2 separate regions of the Homo sapiens genome follow, and region 2 is linked to region 1. A link means that fine-mapping ties the variant in region 1 to the expression of a gene that starts in the linked region. Tissue or cell type: nasal epithelium. Region 1 holds a variant in brackets; the other region holds the start of a gene. All regions are shown on one strand. Distances are from middle to middle.

Region 1 (8,265 bases):
ACTTGAGAGAAATAAGAACAATCAATAAGGGACTAGAGGGGAAGACCCACATAAGGTGGCATTATTCTAGTAATAATTGCATAATCTGTAGTAGTAGGCTTCATAAAATAACAGCCATTTATTGAACACAACTATGAGCTGAGTCCTTAACATACAGCATCCCTCATCCTTGTAACAATCCATCAAGGAATCAGAAACACTATATCTTTTATAGATGAGGAAGAGGTTCAATAACTAGTCGAAGATGCTGAATGGTGGCATGGGGATTAAAACCCTCAATTTGGAGTCCAAATCCTGTGCTCTAAAAAATGAGCAAGATTTGAGTTCAGGTCTGTCTGACTACAAAACCTACATACTCCCACCATGTTCCTCTGCACACATCCCATGCTATTCAATTCAGCAACAGAGATAAGATGTTCTGTGTGACTATGCTGCCTATGTCCAGCTCTGACCACATAAAGATAACTCTAGTTACAAAAGTGGAAGTCATCCCAATGTGGGTGATTTAATTAATAATGCCACACAGTCCATTTCTTGGCAGGAGATTTTGGCACTGCTGCTCAGTGCTGAAAATACAGTATTCTTTTATCTTAGTGTATTGATATGGAGGGAGAAGGAGCTGTTACGTATCTGTGTGAGTCTGAAAAGTTAAAGCATGTTGAAGAGAGATAATATTTTACTTGGAAAAAAATAAGTTGGAAATAAGTGTTTCCCAACTTTGCATCCTGGGAACAGTGTTGCTAATTACCATTGAAGAGATTCACAATTAACGAACGTATTAAAATGAAATTATTTTGATTCTGAAACTTCATACTTTAACTCAAATATCACTGTTGTTCATAAATTCATTTGTGGAAATAAATGTTGCAACAAACACCACTACTGTGCTCAATATACCTTTGTGATTTTTATTTTTCCTTCCAAGTGAGTTGGTATTTTTAACATTTTCTACAGACAGAGGCAAGTTTGAAACATCCTTGTGTCAGTCTTGGAACAGTTCACCTGCTAAAAGTCTTTGTGGATATGACATGCACAGCTAAAACAGTACTTTGCCATTTTTCCTTTTTGTTTCATTTTTGAAAGTAGAAAGCCACTTTCTTTTTCCCCTCTCTTTCTCTCAGCTTCTTATGAAGATTCCCAGTATAAATGCAACAGCTGGAGTTACCTACAAATATACAAACTGAAAGAAAAGAAATATTATGGTTGGCTATTTGGGAGTCTCCTGAAATGAAAACATACCTGGACAGTTAGCATGATCAGAGAGCATCTAAATCAATCAAGGAAGAACAGAGGGAATTGAACTTGCCACAACTGCTGCTTTAAGAAAAAAAAAAAAAAAAAAAAAAAGGTACTTTGCTGGGAATGGTGGCTCGTGCCTGTAATCCCAGCTACTTGGGAGACTGGAGTGGGAGGATTGCTTGAGGCCAGGTGTTCAAGACCAGCCTGGGCAACACGGCAAGACTCAGTCTCATTTAAAACAAAAAAGAAGGTACTTTGATAGGTGCAACATATTTCTCATACCTTGTATCTATCCATTGGGTCTTCCTGTTGCAGCTGACTCTCTCGCATTGTCTGATATTCTTTCTCATATTTCTTCAGCTTCTTGGTTGGTACCTGCAGGGATTTGAGGAAAACCATGTTAGACAAGGACACCATTTATGAAAAAAAATTCAGGTGTGTTTGCTAGTTAAATTTCTGGCATTCTAAGGGAACATGCTCAACTCAAAGTTAGGAGAAAAATAGAGATTCCAGAGTAGAGGTTGGCAAACTTTTCCTGTAAAGGTCCAGACAGTATATATTTTAGGCCTTGTGGGCCATATAGTCTAAGTTGCAAAGATTCAACTCTGTCATTATTATACAAAACCTGCCATGGGTGATACCTAAACAAATGAGCCTGGCTGTGTTCCAAGAAAACTTAATTTACAGAAACAGGCTACAGTTTGTCCACCTCTGTTATAAATAATATTGCTGATGTCACAACCTTCTCTTGTTAATGTATTTAATAGTGCTATTAATTTTAACTTTCTTAAATATAATTCACTCATATCCTTCTATTATGTTGAAAATGAAAATTATTATTTTATATAAGTAAAAAATTGAGCTACAAGAAATATTCTAAAATGGCCTGGGCGTGGTGGCTCATGCCTGTAATCCCAGCACTTTGGGAGGCTGAGGTGGGCGGATCACTTGAGGTCAGGAGTTCGAGACCAGCCTGGCCAACATGGTGAAACCCGGTCTCTACTAAAATTACAAAAATTAGCGGGGCATGGTGGTGGGCATCTGTAATCCCAGCTACTCTGGAGGCTGAGGCATGAGCCTGGCTTGAACCTGGGAAGCTGAGGTTGCGGTGAACCAAGATTGTACCACTGCACTCCAGCCTGGGTGATAGAGCGAGACTCAGTCTCAAAAAAAAAAAAAAAGAAGAGAAGAGAAAAATATTCTAAAATGGAGTTAGTACACTGAAAACAAAGGAGGTTTTAGTGTTTGACAATGAAAACTCAAATATAGAATCATTATGCTGTATGAGATAATAGAAAGTCATCTAAACAACCCATTTATTTCTTGCTAAAATTATGTCATCCACAAAAGACAGTAGTTTACTATTTTCTGAAAAAAGACTAGATTCCTATGGACTCTTAGAATTTTAAAAATAAACAAATAAGCACAGCGTAGTATAAAAGCCCTCAGTAAACAGATATTTAACCTCTCTTAGGGGACAGTGGTGCACATCTATAGTCCCAGCTACTTGGAGGTTGAGACAGAAGAATTGCTTGAGCGCACAAGTTCCAGGCTGCAGTGCACTATGACGGCCACTTACTCCAGCCTGGGCAACAGAATGAGACCCTGTCTTTTAAAACAAACAAACAAAAAAACTCTCTTAGCCTCAGTTTCTTCATCTATAAAATAGCAGGTAAACAAAATTTCTACCTCATAATGGTGTCAGGAGAATTAAATGAGTTAACAGAGAGGTATCTAAAACAATGCCTGGTTTATGGACATTTTTAAAATTTTTTTTAAAATAAGTATTCAATCAAAATTAACGTATTAGAACTTATTCTGTTCCATAATACATATTAAATCTACTTTTAGCCTTTCTTTGGACAATCAAAGTTATAGAATTCCCTTACTTATATTATTTTATTTTAACTTTTGTAGAGATGGGGTCTGGCTATGTTGCCTAGGCTGGTCTCAAACTCCTGGGCTGAAGCGATCCTCCTTCCTCAGCCTCCCAAAGCATTGGGATTACAGGCCTGAGCCACTGTGCCTAGCCTATGATTCCTTTACACAGCAACACCTTTCCTTAATGTTTTTGTTTGGTTTAAGATTACAAACGTGCTATGTTGCAAACTTCTTGCGTACTCTGAGAAGGCAAGGATGATGTGTTGCCCTCAGTATCTGCCATAATACCTAGCAGTATTTGGCTCATACTAGGCCCTCAACAGATTGTTCCTTGTTGAGTTTAAAATATGGTATTTAGAAAACATATACATATGAGTGAGAGAGCAAAAGAGAATGGAAAGCATCTAGCATGAATATAAAATTATCTCACAATTTCCTTATTTTCATTAAAATGAGGACAGTACTAATTCTCTGGCATCTGGCCAGATAATTTGTTACATAAAAAACAAAGACTCCAGGTGTCATTCCCCATCTTATTCTAATTACTTTGTTCTTCTTATCCAGGAACACTATGAAGTACTAGAATTATCTGCTTCTCACCACAATTGGGAAGTTTCACAAACTCAGTCCAAACCTGATAGATGATAGAAACCAGTCAACAACCACATTATGAGAATATTCATCTGGCTGATGGGGGAATGTCTCCCCAGCCAAACAAGGAGTGAGGACATTTTCCAGGGTGTAACTGAATTGCAAAGCCACTGCTGAATATTGTTATGAGAAACACGAATCCTTTATTACTCCATCTCCAGAGACCTCTAACAAGTATACTGTGACCAACTAGAGTGCAATAGAAAGGAAAGCACCACCTGCCAACTGTGTAGCCTCACAGATCATTAGATAAACAAGGGAAATATACACAATCATGTGTTAACAAAACGACAACATTATTTTTCTTGGCTTTGATAGCAGTCTCAATTTCTTTTATTTTCTCTATATACATTAATCATACACTGAGAAAACCAAAAATAGACTCTGAAGATGAAGTTGCAAATCACTAGCACTAAAATAGCCCTGGAGCTATAGAAAAAGGGGAAGCTTCAGGGTTTTAAGCAGTAACAAGGTGTCTCCAATGTTTCCCTAGGAGCAGAAACAAGGGCCAAGGGGAGCAGCTAAAGGTATTGTGAGGAGAGAGCCTACTCCAGGAGCCATTTTCCCACCAGATCGGAAGTATTTCAGTATTTTTACAGCAGGAATACCATACCACTGGACACCAGGCTGAGAATTAGTTCCATGTGGAAGTATTTTCTACATGGTTCTAAAATGGATCCACTCACCAGTGACTGAATTACATACTGGAAGCTTGTGCCTAGAGAATTCTGAAACCATATTTTTAAACTTCAAACTATTATCAATTTTTTTTTACATGTAAGAGAAAAAAATGTCCTTTTAAAGGGATATTTTTACATGTCCTTTTAAAAGTCACTTTTGCTACTTATATTAAGAGGTTCATTTCAAAGTGAAACATTTTTTTAAAAAAGGCAATAACACTCTCAATAAGCTAATCCTTTCCCATCTGGCTGAGATTCTAGGATATTTGGCTTCATCTTGTTCAGGGAAACAGAGCAGGTTCCCAGAACAATATGTTGCTAGGAAACCTTCCAAGCTTATTTATCTTGTGCTGTGGGGTGATACTGAGCATCCACCTGTGTGATTGGCACAATGTGAAAGAGGGGAAAAG[A/G]GTGGAGGAGGAAGAGACAGGAGAGCTGATATGAAACTCTTGTTATTTATGAGGTAATCAAAGAAAATAGATTTTCAGTTTTTAAACCATCTTTCAGGACAAACTTGATTTTATTTTAGAGAATACTGAATGGGATTCAGACGCTTGAAATTTTTCTTTCTGGAGAAAGAAATTTAAAAACCTCTTAGGTAATTAACATTTATTGTTCCCCTTTCAGGGGGACCGTCCCCACGGATGATCAAAGGTCAGTTCCTGGTCAACATAAGTAAACAAGTTTGTTTAAGATAAATTCCCCTACACTGCCTTGTACCTACTCCTTGCCCAATGCCTCAGGGTTACAGAACAGCTGCCTTCAGCTATTCTCCCCTGGGGCTCTGCAGAACCTTCTGACCTTTCAGAAGGTTTGCGTCCTTTCCCTATAGTTTTTCCCCACCGCTCTGACCGATCTCCCACAGTGTCTGCTGATACTTTCTATTACGTTTCATCGTATTCCACAGTGATTTCACAGACCCTCTAAAATGATTTCATAACCAGCAGTTTGAAGGACACTGCACAAAATGAAATGGGCTTTTTCATCTATTCCCCTGATGATAATACTCAGAGCGTTATAATTCTAAATCACTGGAGAAGCTTTATTAACTCTACTTATCATCAATACCCTCACCTGTCATTACAGATGAGAGTGGGTCCTTGTCAGCTGTTATCAGGAAATACAAAGAATACAGCTTAATGAATTTAAGGCAAAGGGGAGTGGTTAGGGGAATGGCGAGGGAGTGTTAAACAGTGACCTTCAATAACAGTAAAAGACAGAGCACAATAATTACTCATTTGCCTTACTCTTTCTCAATATTAGCCATGCTGGCCTCAGACGGAGATATGGGAGGGGAAGACTGAAAAGAATACACCCAACTTTCTTCATTCTCCATGTTTTCTCTCTTCTTCTCATTTGAGGTGTTTATTTCATATTTGTATATATGACTCTTTCAGACTGAATATATATTAATCATGTTGTATAACAATAATTATCGGAAGAATTTGCCTTAATAATGTTCATCTCACTAATCATATCAACCAGTGATATCACCCTATTTTGTATTCTTACTTTCATATCTTATTTTGAATACTTACTAATATTTGAATTTCACATGCATTAGTTCTTTTTTTTTTTTTTTTTGCATGCCACCCATGCCTAGCTAATTTTTGTATTTTATTTGAGATGGAGTTTCCCCATGTTGGCCAGGCTGCTCTTGAACTCCTAACCTCAAGTGATCTGCCCTCCTCAGCCTCCCAAAGTGAGTTATTTCTAATAAAACTTATTTTGGCCAGGTGTGGTGGCTCATGCCTATAATCCCAGCCCTGTGGGAAGTCAAGGTGGGTGGATCACTTGAGTTCAGGAGTTCAAGACCAGCCTGGACAAAATGGTGAAAACCTGTGTTTACAAAACATACAAAAATTAGCTGAGCATCGTGGCACATGCCTGTAGACCCAGCTACTTGGGAGGCTGAGGTGGGAGGATCACCTGAGCCTGGGAGGCTGGGTTGCAATGAGGTAAAATCATGCCACTGCACTCCAGCCTAGGTGACAGAGTGAGACCCTGTCTCAAAATAAAACAAACAAATAAAAACATATTTATTTGCTTACATATAAGATTTGGTTAAGTTTCCTGATTATCAAACTCAATCATCATTTTTTTTTTTAAGAGACAGGGTCTTGTTCTGTTGCTCAGGCTGGAGTGCAGTGGCGCAATCACAGCACACTGCAGCCCCAAATTCCTGGACTCAGGTGATCCTCCCACCTTAGCTTCCTGAGTAGCTGGGACTATAGGGGCACACCACCATGCCTAGCTTTTTTTTTTTTTTTTTTTTTTTTTGGTAGAGCCAGGGTCTCACTATGTTGCCCAGGCTGGTCTCAAAATCCAAGGCTCAAGCAATCTTCCCACCTCAGCCTCCCAAAGTGCTGGGATTACAGGTGTGAGCCACCAGGCCTGGCCCAAACAAGATCTTTGTACATTTAGGAGTTCAAGGGCTTTGTTTATTTAGGAGTTCAAGGGCTTTGTATATTTAGGAGTGCTTTTCAACACCGCAGATCTTAAACTTCGGATCATAATGAACAGAATAATAGAACTCTTAAATAACAAATTTGAAACTCACTGTAGTAACTTGAAAAGAACTTACACACAGAAAAGAGAAATAACAGAATACATACGTAAAGATTTTTCAAGTTGATCTATGCTCTGTAATATATATGGCATGATCTTTGGCATATTCTGACTTTATGAAATAGTATATTAATTTTGTGAAAAGTTGGTTTTGCATTTTAGTAGAGAAAAGACCCTGGGCACTACCAGTGTTTCTCAAGGTAAGATATTATTGGCATTTTGGGTGGAATAATTTTTGGTGTAGACTCCGCTCTCCATTTCTGAGCCCATGGCATCCCTGGGCCCATTTATGATTTCACCTATTAAATGTCAGTAGCGGCTGCCTGTCACTGTGACAAACAGGATGCCTACAAACCTTTCTAAACCAGGTGTGGATGTTGGGGGCTGGTAGGTTTGAGGGGTACATGCTTGAGAAGATGTGGGATTCATACTAAAAGCCTCTGAGCTAAACTATCAATAAAGACAAGAAGAGAGGCCTGGACCAGTGTGCAAGGTTTTTAGCACTGCATTGATGTATTCAGATGTCCACTTCCCTCTGCTTTGTTATTGGTTAGCAGTAATTGCCACTAAGTATGTAATTCCTTCAAGTCAAAAAATTTCCTAACAGTTTTAAGCCTATTAATTTAGAAAAATCTATATTTAATCCTGCCAGCAACTCCATGAGGGAAGTATTATTTGGATTTTACAAATAAGTTGAGGATAGGTAACTTGCCCAAGATCATACAGAAATGAAATCCAGTTGGCCTCCAGAGCCTGCCCTCTTTAACCACTTTGCTCTACTGCCTGGGACCAGATGATTAAAGTAAAGCTGCTCAAGAAGCTGACAGTCTAGACGTAGTGCCAAATATGTGTCTAGTTATCATCTAGTTTCATAAGCGCAATAACAGATATTTATAAAAGGTACAAAGATGATCAAGAAGAAATTTGTGGGACAGAGGGTTGGAGAGGGAGAAGCACCTCAGTGAGGAGGATTTTCATGATGACTGGTTTATGCAAGCTTCCTTGCCCAGTTAAAACACAGAGCATTTCTCCTGTGCTCAGTTTTAACATTGGGCCAGTCACTTGTAAGAGCTATCATTCAGGGTTTGATGAATCTGCTTCTGTAATTCAGAAATGAAAGATACAAAAATATTAATTTATGGATGCAAATACTGGTAAAGTACATCACTGTGTTTTTCTTTTTTAAAGGCTGATATGACCCAAGTTAACATTTTCAGAAGTGAAGATTCCTGGTGCTCAGTTCAGG
Region 2 (8,000 bases), 800 kb after region 1:
CAATGCTATCCCTCCCCCCTCCCCCCTCCCCACCACAGTCCCCAGAGTGTGATATTCCCCTTCCTGTGTCCATGTGATCTCATTGTTCAATTCCCAGCATGGCACATGTATACATATGTAACTAACCTGCACAATGTGCACATGTACCCTAAAACTTAAAGTATAATTAAAAAAAAAAAAAAAAAAAAAAAAAACAGAAAGAGAAAAAAAAAAAAAAAGAAATACCAGCACCTGGAATAGCCTTGGGCTGCTGGTCATCCTCAGACTCAACGGCTGACCCATTTATATAAGTCAAGAGTTATAAAAATATAGAACTCATTAAAATTAAGACATAAGCAAGCTCTGTGCCTGGGAATCCCATAGGCTTACAGCAACAACTTCATTCTCCAAACCCCCTCTAACCAGTCATAATGATCCATACCCCACTTGAAGACAATGGTAGGTTGGAATGCAGGCCCACTTCTACACCTTCAATATAGGAAATTTTTGCTACTTAGCCACTACTCTCTTCAAAGTCAATCTCTTGAAGCCTAGCTATCTCCCACACATATTTTTACTTGGCACAACAGAATTCCTTCTTTTGATTACTCCAAAAGCATGGATAAAAGGACTTTCTGCTTCAATGCTGTATCATCTGAGAGTTCAAATAAATATACAATGGCTGAGCAAATTCAAGTTTGGGTTAAGGCAAAGAAAAAAATTCAAGTTTTTTAAAAGTCACAAATTTAGAACTGGAGAGCTGATCACATGAAAACTCCTGTTTCACATGCCTAATAAAATTCTTTCATTCAAAGGAAAAAAAAATCATAACTACCAGCGTAAAAAGAAAACATCTAAATCATGAAACAATTATCAAAGAAACAAAAATTCTCAGAACATCGCAACTGTAATATATAGAAATTCCCATCAAATAACTCAGGTGAAAAAAAAAAAAAATGGGACAAGCACCGTTGGCTCAGGCCTGTAATCCCAGCACTTCGAGAGGCTGAGGCGCAAGGACTGCCTGAGGCCAGGAGTTGGAGACTAGCCTGAGCAACATGGTGAGACCCTTGACTCTACAAAAATAAAACAAAAAATTAGCCAGGTTTGGTGGCATGTGCCTGTGGTCCCAGCTACTCAGGAGGCTGAGGTGGGAGGATCTCTTGAGACCAGAACTTCGTGGCTGCAGTGAGCTAGGACTGAGCCACTGCACTCCAGCCTGGGCGCCAGAGCGAGACCTTGTCTCTTTAAAAGAAACAAACAAACTTCATCTATTTACAGTCACACTTTTTTAGGTTGGTTTGTATATTCACCATATGCCCCAATAGTACTGAGACTTACTAACTTGTTTCCAGCTTTCTAGAGGACAATGTAGGTTATATAATATGTTCACATATAAGCTCTACCCTATTTCATCTACTTCTCCCCATATGACTTACTAGTACACATCAGAGGCCGGGCGCTGTGGCTAACGCCTGTAATCCCAGCACTTTGGGAGGCTGAGGCGGGCAGATCACCTGAGGTCAGCAGTTCCACCAGCCTGACCAACATGGAGAAACCCAGTCTGTACTAAAAATACAAAATTAGCCAGGCGTGGCGGCGCATGCCTGTAGTCCCAGCTACACAAAAAGCTGAGGCAGGAGAATCGCTTGAACCCGGGAGGCGGAGGTTGTGGTGAGCCGAGATCGCGCTGTTGCACTCCAGCCTGGGCATCAAGAGCGAAACTTCGTCTCAAAAATAATAATAATAATAATAATAATAATAATAATAATACACATCAGAGCAAATGTAGGCTACATAATATGTTAAAATATAAACTCTGCCCTGCTTTATCTACTTCTCTCCAAATGAATAATACATAATATCAGCGCATTTATTGAACTGATTTAGTATAGACACCAGTCTAACTCAAAGTCTAGAGCTAACCCCTCAGGCAGGTGTACATTTAATACAATTTGATGATAATGTATACATAAAGTTCAACTAGTCTTTCTCCTTAGAAATCTCATTGTCAATTTCATAAGGGACGCTCTACTGAGAAAATGAATCACAGGCCAGTTTTCTAGTACTAGGAGCTTGTGAACCAGTATTTTCCATGAACAAAATCCACTTCCAATGTGATCACAAAAAGCAAACTTCACATCCGTATCTTCTGACATCATAACTAATGGATATTCTACGGAAGATGCCAAATATAAACACTACTGTAAGAAAAGTCAGAAGGTTTTCATGAAACTGTGTTTTCAGAATTTTAACAAGCAACTACTTACCTCCCACTATGCACGAGGAAATTTAAATGTATTAAAAATCCCTAAACCCCTCCAGTGCCAAAAATAAAGGCCTTAAAATCATTTTCCAAACTGCGCTGAAATCTGTCAGGCAAGCAAAAGTTCTCCTTACCATTAGTGTAATAAGGCTGGCATTTCAGTTTACTTGCATGAAACCAATTTTGCAAGTGACCACCCAAGTTTTGGTACATATTCTAATATAACCCTATCTGAGAGATCCAAGGACCTGGACACACTGCCTAGTATCTGAAACCCGTCAGTTCAGCTCCCATGCACCCGGCCACCTCCCGCTAGCCGGTGGCCCCTTTCCACATGCTGACGCACTGCCCAGCCCTGTACCGTTGGCGACCAGTGCAAAGTACTAGCCCAGTCTCAGAAACTTTGACTCAGTTATCAGGACACTGAGCACTCACAAGGTGGGTGGGGGTTGGGGGGAGGTGTTTGTCATGGCTCAGGAGGTCAACTTTGAAGCGGGGCATTCCCTACAGGTAGGGATCTGCCCGGAACGCATCCCATCCCAAACTGCAAAACCACAAGCATCAACAGCAGGAGCCGAGCAAAGTGCTCGGCGGAGGAAGAGGAAGGGCGAGGGAGAGAAATGGTCGAGTACAGAAGCCTGCGTGTGGGTAAGAAAATACCCTAACCACTCGCCCACCGGACGCAGGGCGGCTGGGACTGCGAATCCAGCAGCAGCCACAGCGTAGCAGCGGGCGGCAGCCGCCGAGGCAGCAATGTCAGGAGGGCACAGCTGGAGGAGGCGGCCGCCAAAGCCACTACCCCACCCCCAGGTAAGGGCGCCGACCCCGCCCGCCCTATCCGCGAGGAGCGGCCACCTGGGAGAACTGCGGTGTCCGGGAGGCGGCCGACAGTCCTGAACCCGCCCCCTACCCTCCTTACCGCGGTCCTCCCGCATCCCAGTCCTCGGCTGGGGCCCCATCTCGACCCTCCCCAGGCTCAGCCCGACGCCAACACACCCAGGCAGCCTCGGCCCGCGGATCCGGGCCGCCGGGCCGCCCTCGTGTCCCTAGGAGGCCGTCCTCGCCTCACCTCTTCACGTCTCCGCGGGCGCTGCCGAGACAACAACTCCTTCAGGCGCCCGCGTTCCACCCTCCACCTCGCGCTCTGAAGCCGGGCCGGTCCCGTTCGCTCCGCCACCGCTGGAGCCCGAGGAGGGCGGAGGGAACTGAGAGGGGAGGGGAGAAGGGCCGCCTGGCAGGAAGAGGCGAGGGAGGGGGCGGGCCGAGAAGGAGGGGAGGAGGCGGTGGCGGCGGGTCGGAAGCGCGCTCGTCCAGGCCCCTCTGCGCGGCGTGCGCGCTCCTGATGTCGGAGGCGCCCACTCTGCCGGGCGGCGGCGGCGCACACGCGCGTGCACGTCGCTGCGTGGCCGCGGTTGCGCCGGGAGCGGAGGAGTGAGGTCCTGACAGAACCAGAGCTGTTAGAGCAGGGACGCGCGAAAGGCGGGAGTACGGGCGGCGCTGGAGAACCTCCGCGGCGGAGGGGCCTGGGGGTGGGACCGCGCCCGCGAGCCCGCCCTGACCGGGGTGCGTTCTACTGGCAGTTGCTGAGTTCGGAAGATTAACTCTGAATGTGGAGAGATTATTTTCTTGCTCGTAAACCTGGTTTACATATTTTCATTCTTAATGCTCAGTAATCTTAAGGAAAGTCACCTGAAAGAATACTTTTTCACCAAGTACTCTTCTGCGCCTGTTTGAAGGTGTCTGTGTGCTTGTGAAGCGCTCCCTTGTTAGTTCCTTCTGTGAGACTCGGGGGAGACTGAAGAGGGAAATCACCTGCGGGGAATGAACAGGAAAGCAATAAGTAAGCACCATTACGTATTATATGAAGAAAATGTGCCCTCATTTGCACCTTTTTATCCTTTGGGGTAAAAGATGTTGAGGTACAAACTAGGTAGAGGTAGAATAAACCAACGCTTTTTCGCTACGAAGATTGTACTGATCCTTGAATTGTGGACATCCTTCTTCTAGATCCTGCAACCAGAAATGACCTGTAAATTTTCCGAATCTCCTTAGCACTTTGTTCTGTAGTTTTGTGGCACCTAACATGTCAGGCTTATCCAGGTTGCCCTGTGCAGCATTTTATCCCACTAGACAACCGCTGTGAACCTGTATCATTCATTTGTATCTTACACTGTGCACCCTGCCTAACTCATAGGAAGCACTCAATGAATGTGATTGCATGGATAAGTGAATATAGTGTCCAGTGATTGCAGCCATAGAATGACTTTAGTTTAAATATCTCCCTTCTATCCCACTTCAATTCCCCTGCCCTCATTTTCCCACCCATATTTAAAAGCTACTCTGAGAAACGTGACATTTGTCCAAAGGGCCCTCCCTGACAAATTCCTTCCCCCCACACCCCCGCTTTTCCTGATGTTAATGTCTATAGATGCTGAGACATATCAAGAGTGTTGTAACTATTTTTTTGTTTCCCCTACCTTCTGGGCTGCTTCCCTTATTAACTTCTGTATCTCAGGAGCCTACCTAGCCCTGGGCCTGACAATAAATGCTGAAAGTTTTTATTATATTTAATAAAGTTAGGGTTAGAATAACATAAATCATCTGTTGATTTCCTGAGATGTACAGGAACTATTAATAAATCTGCCAACCAGTAAGTACTAAGCCTCTACTAAATAAAGTACTAGTAAATTTACACTGCGCGCCATGAGGAAATCAACAGTTGACAAAGCCGCAGTTTCTGCCTTCAGGTATCTTCTAACTGGAGTGAAGCTTTTTGACAAAAAAGGACAATGGATGTGGTAATTATGGGCATTCAATAGGTAACTTAGCTAAAAAAGAATTTAAAAAAAAAATGGCAAGTCCAAAACAAGTTTAGTGTTCCCCAAATTCAGTTCCATATGTCTTTGAAAGCAATAGTGGACACCACTGGCCACTGCGAGTTAATTCTTCTATTTAAGTGGAGCATGCTATCTTCATGTGCCAACTTGCTATAAGGAAAAGAAAAATCCTGTCCCATGGCCACATGTAACACCTCTCATCAACAGGGGTCATTCTTTAAAACTGAACTTTTCCTCACAGTACAACATAGATAAGAGACAAGTCATGAGAGAACCTAGATAAAAGACAATTAAGGTGATCTGATGCAAACTCATCCTTACCACCAGAAAAACAATTCTAAGCACATGCCAAAAAATTATTAACAGATCTTCAGGCTTTTAGTCGAGAAACTAAAAGGAATAAAAAATTAATAACAAAGCATTCTTCATGTGGTATGTGCTGCTCACTTCTCTTTCCACTGTGGCTTCATTTGCATTAAGCGTATCCTAGCAGCCCTGGTCCATGAAAGGACTGAAACTCTCACTTTGAGAGATGGTGTTATAAAATACTCCAGCATGATTCATAACATGACAAACTGGTGCCCCAGGTACAAATCAAACCCACAAACATGTTTTGTTTGGCATACATGGTGCTTAAAAAAACACATATCCAAAGTTAAAAACCAGAAGATTATACATGCATTTTGGGCTTCTCTTTAAAAAGTGGAAGATTTGGTAACAGTGAGCTTACATTATTACATGATAACGATCAGCTGCAGGACATGCATTCTCTCTTTTGCCAAAGTCTCTACATTCTCTATTGTATCTTACAGTGTTGTTTCTCTCATTTATGTCTGCAACTCCTAGTTTAAAATGTAATATCAAAAATTGGAAACAGACCAGGTGCAGTGGTTCATGCCTGTAATCCCAGCACTTTGAGAGGCCAAGGCAGAATTGCTTGAGCCCAGAAGTTCAAGATTAGCCTGGGCAACATAACAATACCCTGTCTCCACAAAAAAGAAAAAAAAAATTAGAAACAAGTTAAACATTGAACAATAATGTAAGAGTTTAAACTGGTATCTAATGGTACAGAATATCATATTGATTTTATAGTGAGCATTATATTGATTGATTCCCCAGAATATATTTCCACCCCTCTGCAATTGCAAGACAGCCAAGGATCTGATTAGGCCCATCTCCCGCTCCAGGTGTGGACAGTGATTGTGATAATCAGCCTAATCCCATTCTCACTTGACCTGTCAGTATTCACTGATAGGCACTGACATGAGTCTAAATTGGTGCCAGTCACATGGAAGGCCATATCTTGTGTTTGTTGGGAAATGAAAAGTGCTCTTTTTCTTACTCTGGCTAGTGTGATGGGTAGATGTGAGTCCAATAGTTACTGCAGCCACTTTGCTACCATGAGGAAGCCAGCCTGAGGATGAAGCTGACACATGATGGAAGCACTCAAACCCAGCTTGAAGCCTACCCCTTCCTCTGAGACAATAAATTTTCACAGCTTTTTTTTTTTTTTTTAAACAGTCTCACTCTGTTGCCCAGACTGGAGTGCAGTGGCGCAATCTCGGTTCACTACAACCCCTGCCTCCCGGGTTCAAGCGATTGTCCTGTCTCAGCCTCCTGAGAAGCTGGGATTACAGGTGCCCACCACCACGCCCAGCTAATTTTTGTATTTTTAGTAGAGATGGGGTTTCACCATATTGGCCGAGCTGGTCTCAAACTCCTGACCTCAGGTGATCCACCCGCCTCGGCCTCCCAAAGTGCTAGGATTACAGGCGTGAACCACCGTGCCCGGCCTGATTTTGACAGCTTTTTAAGAAGGTTCGAGTTTGGCTTTGTATTTCTTACAGATAAAGCTAAATCTTTCCATGCATACTATGGAACAAATAACTTTAGTTGCATTATATGACTCTTCCAAGGATACGTTTCCAATGATAGAAAGGTAACAAGCTGTCTGGCAAGATTTTACAGGGTCTTGAAAGGAATTTGACCACACCAAAAAATCCTTCCCTGACTGGGCTACCTGATGCCTGAAAGCCCATCGTTACACTTTTTTTTTTTTTCACTTTGACTTAAATCCTGTGCCCTATTTAAATCAACTTTGCCCAAGAAGAGCACTTCATGACTCGAATCACTAATCTTATATAAATGAGTTTATCACATGATTTTTTAGTCTTTTTTTTTTTTACTAACAGGAAGATTTGGAAAAGAGGCACTGGCTACTGGAGGAAGGGAGAAATCACCGAGAGAGCGAAAGATGTAACAGGTAAAACTGGAGATACAGAAGAAAACCTTTTTTATTTCACGGTTTTATGTAGGGCTGAAATTCAGAGTAATCTGGACAAGTCATAATGAGCTTATATGATAAACCAAACCTGTGTTGCAATCGCCCATTTAAGACTAAGAACACAATAAAATATGTATATAGGGAGCAGAAAATTTCCTCAGCAGTAGAAGAGGCAGGCAGAGATCTAAATGCCTGTTTTATTTTATTTTTTTGAGACAGAGTTTCACTCTTGCTGCCCAGGCTGGAGTGCAGTGGCGCAATCTCGGCTGACTGCAACCTCCGCCTCCCGGGTTCAAGCAATTCCCCTGCCTTAGCCTCCGGAGTAGCTGGGATTACAGGCACGCACCACCATGCCCAGCTAATTTTTGTATTTTTTTAGTAGAGACAGCGTTTCGCCACATTGGCCAGTCTGGTCTCGAACTCCTGACCTCAGGTGATCCACCCGCCTCAGCCTCCCAAAGTGCTGGGAGGGATTAAAGGCATGAGCCACTGCGCCTGGCCCTAAATGTCTCTTGAGGAAGAATAGCTAGCCTACTACTTTTATTTCTTTTATTTTTTATATTTTTTATTTTTTGAGACAGGGTCTCACTCTGTCACCCAGGCTGGAGTGCAGTGGTGCGATCTTGGCTCACTG

What was found. PIP is the estimated chance that this variant, and not a neighbour inherited with it, causes the effect.
Region 2: it holds the start of RABGAP1L, and the variant in region 1 is fine-mapped to the expression of RABGAP1L in nasal epithelium (TOPMed, PIP 0.93).

Annotation. Positions count from the first base shown.
Region 1 is chr1:174,950,806-174,959,070 of GRCh38, reverse strand. It overlaps RABGAP1L (RAB GTPase activating protein 1 like), which reads right to left. Exons shown (of 26, transcript NM_001366446.1): 20 at 1,522-1,614. RABGAP1L-AS1 (RABGAP1L antisense RNA 1) reads left to right here and starts at 4,810. Exons shown (of 6, transcript NR_121196.1): 1 at 4,810-4,914. The variant A/G (reference allele first, on the strand shown) is at 4,862.
Region 2 is chr1:174,154,972-174,162,971 of GRCh38, reverse strand. RABGAP1L (RAB GTPase activating protein 1 like) reads right to left here and starts at 3,452. Exons shown (of 26, transcript NM_001366446.1): 1 at 3,315-3,452. It overlaps RABGAP1L-DT (RABGAP1L divergent transcript), which reads left to right and starts at 3,685. Exons shown (of 4, transcript NR_121197.1): 1 at 3,685-3,808; 2 at 3,982-4,085; 3 at 7,275-7,345. RefSeq lists silencers at 3,047-3,226, 3,347-3,746.